2 separate regions of the Homo sapiens genome follow, and region 1 is linked to region 2. Evidence: fine-mapped expression QTL. A gene starts in region 2. The other region holds a variant in brackets. All regions are shown on one strand. Distances are between the middles of the regions.

Region 1 (2,908 bases), 33 kb after region 2:
ACAGGAGCACTGCGGCCCCGCCCAGCAAGGGCCGAGCCTGGAGCCTGGACTCATCTTTGTGAGACTGCAGAGAAGTGTCCAGTGCCTGCCCTGGCCCCAGGTGGCCTCAAAGAAAGTGAGCAGGAGCCAGGACCTTCCTTCCCTGCAGCGTGTCCTGCAAGGACAACTGGAAATCATGGCTGAAAGGAATTGGAGACCACACCAGCAAGTGGAAACACATCCCATGCTCACAGATGGGCAGGATCAGTGTTGGTAAAACAGCTACACTGCCCAAAGCAATCCGCAGAGTCAATGCTATTGTTATCAAACTACCAATGTCATTTTTCACAGAATTAGAGGAAACTATTCTAAAATTCATATGGAACCAAAAAAGAGCTGAAATAGCCAAAGCAATTTTAAGTGAAAAGAACAAAGCCAGAGGCATCACGTTACCCAACTTCAAACTATACTACAAGGCCACAGTAACCCAAACAGCATGGCACTGGTACAAAAACACATAGACCAATGGAAGAGAATAGAGAGCCCAGAAATAAGGCTGCACGCCTACAATCATCTGATCTTTGACAGAGCTGACAAAATCAAGCAATGGGGAAGGACTCATGATACCAAGAATCAGGAAGATGTCAAACTGAATGAAAACAGGCAACCAATGATACCAACCTGGAGATGACAGAAATTTTAAAAGTGACTTTAAAATTTTTAAAGCAACCATCATAAAAATGCGTCATTGGGCAATTGCAAACACGCTTGAAACAAATGAAAAAGTTTCAGCAAAGAAATACAAAGTTTCAACCAAGGAATAGAAAAGAAAAAGAAAAAGCTAATGGAAATTTTAGAGCTGATTTTTTAAAAAAACTCAATGAATGGGCTTAATAGCAGAATAGAGAGGGCAGAGGAAAGAATTGGTGAAATGGAGACAATAGAAATTACACAGTTTGGACAACAAAGAGAAAATAGACCAAAAGAACTGAACAGAGCCTGAGAAGCTTGTGGGACTATAATAAAAGATCTAATATCCATGTCATCAAAATCCTGGAAAGAGAAGAGAAGGAGGGTGGTGCATAAAAAGTACTCAAAGAAATAATGGCTGAAAACTTCCAAATTTTGGCAAGACACATAAGCCTACAGATTTCAGAAGGTGAGAAAACCCCAAACATGATCAATGCAAAGAAATCCACACCAGGACACATCATAGTCAAACCTCTGAATACTAACCCTCCCCTCTCCGAAAAAATAAAAATAAAAATAAAAAACAAAAAGAGAGAGAAACAGCAGCTTACATATATACACATATGGGGGGGGAAAACAGTTCAGATGATCAGATTTCTCATCAGTAACTGTAGAGGAAGTGCATAGCATTTTTTTAAGTTCTGAAAGAACTTTCAACCCAGAAACCTATTTCCAGCAAAAATATCCTTCAGAAATTAAGGAAACAGGCTAGGTGCAGTGGCTCAGGCCTGTAATCCCAACACTTTGGGAGGCTGAGGCAGGTGGATCACCTGAGGTCAGGAGTTTGAGACCAGCCTGGCCAAGATGAC[G/A]AAACCCTGTATCTACTAAAAATACAAAAATTTGCCAGGCATGGTGGTGGGTGCCTGTAATCCCAGCTACTTGGGAGGCTGAGGCAGAAGAATCACTGGAATCTGGGAGGTGGAGGCTGCAGTGAGCCCAGATACAGCCATTGCACTCCAGCCAGGGCGACAAGAGCGAGACCCTGTCTCTTAAATAAATAAAGGAGGAAGAAGGAAGAAAGAAGGAAGGAAGAAGAACAAGAAGAAGGAAAAAGGAGAAGGAAGGAGGAAGAGAAGAAGAAAGGAAGAAGATTGACAGAGTAATGTTTAGAAACATGACCTAACCATGTACTGTCTACCAGAAACTCACTTCAAATAAAACAATATAAGTAGGTTGAAAGTTAAAAGAGTTGAAAAAGATACATTATGAAAATGATAAAAAGAAAGCAGAAGTGACTGCATTAATATCAGGTTAAGTGTACTTCAGAGCAAAGAAAATTACCAGAGATAAAGAGGGACATTCTATAACAATAAAGGGTCAGTCCGCCCAGAAGACATAGCAATCCTAAACATATATGCACCAAATAACAGAGCTGCAGAATATGTGAAGCAAAACTGATAGAATTAATAGAGACACAGATGAATCCACAATTATAGTTGGAGATGCCAGTTTCCCCTCTCTGAACACTTGATAGAACAATCAGACTGTAAACCAGTAAAAATATGAAGGAACTCAACAACACTGTCAATCAACACGGCTGGATCAACATTTAAAGGACACTCCACCCAACAACAGCAGAATCCACATTCTTCTCAGTTGCCCCACTGACTATACACCAAGCTAGACCAAATCCTGAGCCATAACGCAAACCTCAACAAATTTAAAAGAATTTAAGTCATACAAATGTGTTCTCTGACCACAGTAACAAAAATAAAAGGGAAATTTTCCAAACACTTGGAAACGAAACAACACATTCTAAATACTCTATGTGTCAAAGAGAAAATTTCAAGGAAATTTTAAAAACATATAGAACTGAGTGAAAATGAAAATGCAACATATGGCGAACCAGGATTTTTGTGCCAATGGCGATGTGCTGGCTGAGATACTGGACTATATCAGTATCAGTATTTTGCAAGCTGCTACTGTTGTGGAAACTGGGTACAAAGTACATGAGCTCTATTATTTATTAAAACTATGTACAATTATCACAAAATAAAAGGTTAATTTTTTAAAAGTGTAACAAGTGCTCAAAATGGGTGATTTCCTACTTATCTGACTCTAGTTGGCTGTTCTATGCTCGTGGGGCTGTCTGCGTCTGCTGTGCCTGGATGGGGGAGACTCTGTAAAGGGGAGCTGCCTCTTCCCAGCTCCACACTCAAGGGCACTGCATTGGTAGCCA
Region 2 (2,908 bases):
GAGACCAAAGCCCACAAATCTTTAAAGGAAAGCAGCAGGTGCGTAAAAGAAAGAGCCTGCGGCCCCTGCCCGAGGCCCCTCCCCACGTGCCCAGCCCTGAGCAGCAGCAGCGCTGAGTGACCCAGGTGTGGGAAATGCCTGCTGAGGGGTTTTAGGCCGCAACAGCCGAAGCTGACACGGCCGACTCCAGGAGCCTGTGAGTTCTGCATTTTACCAACCGCATGCACGTCTTTCCAGGAGTGCTTGCCCTATGGCTGCCCCCCAAATTATGGGGTTACCTTTGCCCCCTATTCAGTGTCTATATCCTCACCCCAAGCCCGTGAGGTGACCTGGGCACTCGGTGACAAAGTCCTGTGCTTGTGGGGTCCCTGGTGCCTTCCCTTTGGGGTCACGTCAGCCCGGCGTTCCCCCGGAGGCACAAGTCTGGGTGGCAGCTGAGAGGCGTCAGGGGCACATCCAGACCTGACAAAGGAGGCGGCCCCAGCCCTGCAGCAGAGGGCCCAGGAGCCCAGGGGCTCAGCTCCAATGTCCAGGTCTGAGCACCAGGGTGCAGCGGGATCAGGCTCCTGGAGCAGAGTCTGCCTGCCACTTCCGCCTCCTTCCAAGACAGGGACTGGGGCGCTGCAGGCCCTGTGGGGCCCACAGAGAGAGAGCTCAGGGACAGCTGGCTGAGGCCACCCTCTGTGAGACTCCTCCTCTCCAGCTCCAGCCCACTCCACCTTGGCTTGCTGCCCAAGCTTCCAAACACCCAAGGATGGGGGAGGCTGCACCTGACTGCTGACTCGGTGGACCAGGGTGGGCCCCAGGGTGGGCATTTTCAATAAGGTGGGGCTGCCTGGCTGGACGCAGGGAGTCTGCCCAGCACCTGCCCCACTCCCAGCCTCCGGCTTCAGTGCCCACCTGGCTCCCGGGGAGCTGAGCCCCTGAACTCCCTGCCAGGCCAGAGTGACAGCCCGGGTGACCGACCAGGGGACAGAGTGCTGGGAATTCACGTCCCTGAACACACTGCACCCTCCCACTCTGCGGTCAAAAGCCCTGCTGCTCCTTCAAGCCAGGAGCATGGATTAAGTACCTACTGTGTGCCTGGCCAGCCACACGGACGGGGAGCTGACAGCCGGGCCCTGAAGCCGCCCTCTCTCCTGTGGGAGTTCTGGGGGTGGCCGGGGAAGGTGAGATTCTCCTCCACCCTCCCTGCCTCTTGGCCGAGCTTGGGGCTATCCTGGCTCTTCTGACCGCGGCACTACCGTGGGCCGGGGTCACCCTGGCGCTGAAGAAAGCCCCGGGGGGCCTTTGGGGCAGGAAGAGGTCAAGAGCCCCAGGACCCCCCAGGGTCCCCCAGGACCGGGGAGGGTCGGGTGCCCAGTGGGTCTCTCCGATGCCTCCAGGTGGGGATGAGGCAGCGTTATTGCCCCACCCCCAACATCCCCGGGCCTCCGAAAGACCCTCGCTCAGGAGAGACCCCGGCCCAGCGACCGCCCCGCCCCCCACCCCGGGCCCCGCCCCCCACCCCGGGCCCCGCCCGGCCCTGCCCAACGCCGCTGCAGAGGCCACCCCGGGACTGCGGCAGCCCCGCCCGGCAGCAGCGGGGGTGGGACGGGGGCGGCGGGAGCCGGCGAGGGGGTCTGCCCGTCCGAGCTTTCCTGGGCGCCGGCTCCGCCCCTCGACCCTTGGGGCCCAGGTGGGGCGCAGACCCCGTGGCTCCCCGCGGAGGCCACACGCCTGGCTCCGCCCCCGGTGCCTCCCCCAGGAAGGAGCGACGTTCCCTAGGCGCCGGGTCCGGACAGCGCCGCGCAGCCCCCGCGCACCCCGCGCCCCCCGCGCCCCCCGGGCCCGCCCCGTATCCCTGACCGCGTCCCCTGGAGACACTGCGGCAGCGGCGGGCGGGCGGGGGCGGGCGAGGGCCGGGCGCGTCTCCATGGAGCCAGGGCGCGCGTAGCCGAGCCCAGCCCAGCCCAGCCGGAGGCCCCGGGGGCGGTGCGCGGCGCGGCCGCAGGATGCAGGCCATGGACCCGGCCGCGGCGGATCTTTACGAGGAGGACGGCAAAGACCTGGACTTCTACGACTTCGAGCCGCTGCCCACCCTCCCCGAGGACGAGGTGAGCCCCCGGCCCCACTGGGGGGCCCCTTCCGCCGCCGAGGGGTCCGCGGAGAGCGCCCGGGGGGAGGACCCGGGAGGGGCTGTGAGCTCCCGCCTCCCCAGGCGCCCTCCATGGCCGAGGGGTTCCCACCGCCGTTCTCAGCCCCCGCGTTAGGATTTTCACCCGGAGGGGACAGCACCCCCGAATGCGCACGGGACGGCGGCGGGTGGGCAGCCCCTGCAGAAGTTGGTGCGCGGTAGCTCCTGGTGGAAACCCTGGCGGGACAGTGTGGGGGCAGCAAGGAGGACGGAGGGGGGTCTGCTTACTCCCTGCCGGGCCCCAGGAGGCCAGCGGGGTGCAGAGCAGCAGAGTCCAATCAGGCGCCGCTCAGGAGCTGGGGGATGAGGTCCCCGGAGCTGAGGTTCAGGAGCGGGGGGTGGGGGGAGCGCTGGATGACTGCCCCCCGAGACTGAGAGCTGCTTCCTGCTCTCTGGTTTTCCGGGCCTTCACCCAAGACCCCCCTACCCCGCAAGGTGCAGAGGGGCTCTGCCTGCCATCTGCATACCCTGGCGCTTCTGCTCATGGACCGCCCACCCTACAGCACCGGCTGCCCAGACGCCACCTTGGCTGGGTCTGACCCTGTAGCTCAGCTCTGGCTTGGCTGGGATGGAGTGGACAAGCCAGGCCCGGAAGCATGAGAGGTGGCCCCCAGGGGATACAGCAGCTCCCAGAGGGACCCTCACCCTCCAGGGATCCGAGATCTGCCAAACCTCCAACAGGCAAGAGCCCAGACGCTGGGCGCCTGCGTCTCCGGGTGACAGCGTCGTCAC

Evidence for each region.
Region 1: its variant is fine-mapped to the expression of KNDC1 in whole blood (TOPMed, PIP 0.98).

The regions. Positions count from the first base shown.
Region 1 is chr10:133,191,808-133,194,715 of GRCh38, forward strand. All of the region lies in intron 9 of KNDC1 (kinase non-catalytic C-lobe domain containing 1), which reads left to right. It overlaps LOC105378574 (a long non-coding RNA gene), which reads right to left. Exons shown (of 2, transcript XR_946511.3): 2 at 2,680-2,908. Among named protein-coding and RNA genes, the nearest start is that of KNDC1, 33 kb to the left of the region's middle. The variant G/A (reference allele first, on the strand shown) is at 1,539.
Region 2 is chr10:133,158,474-133,161,381 of GRCh38, forward strand. It overlaps KNDC1 (kinase non-catalytic C-lobe domain containing 1), which reads left to right and starts at 1,746. Exons shown (of 30, transcript NM_152643.8): 1 at 1,746-2,096. The coding sequence starts at 1,995. RefSeq lists enhancers at 2,117-2,706, 2,707-2,908.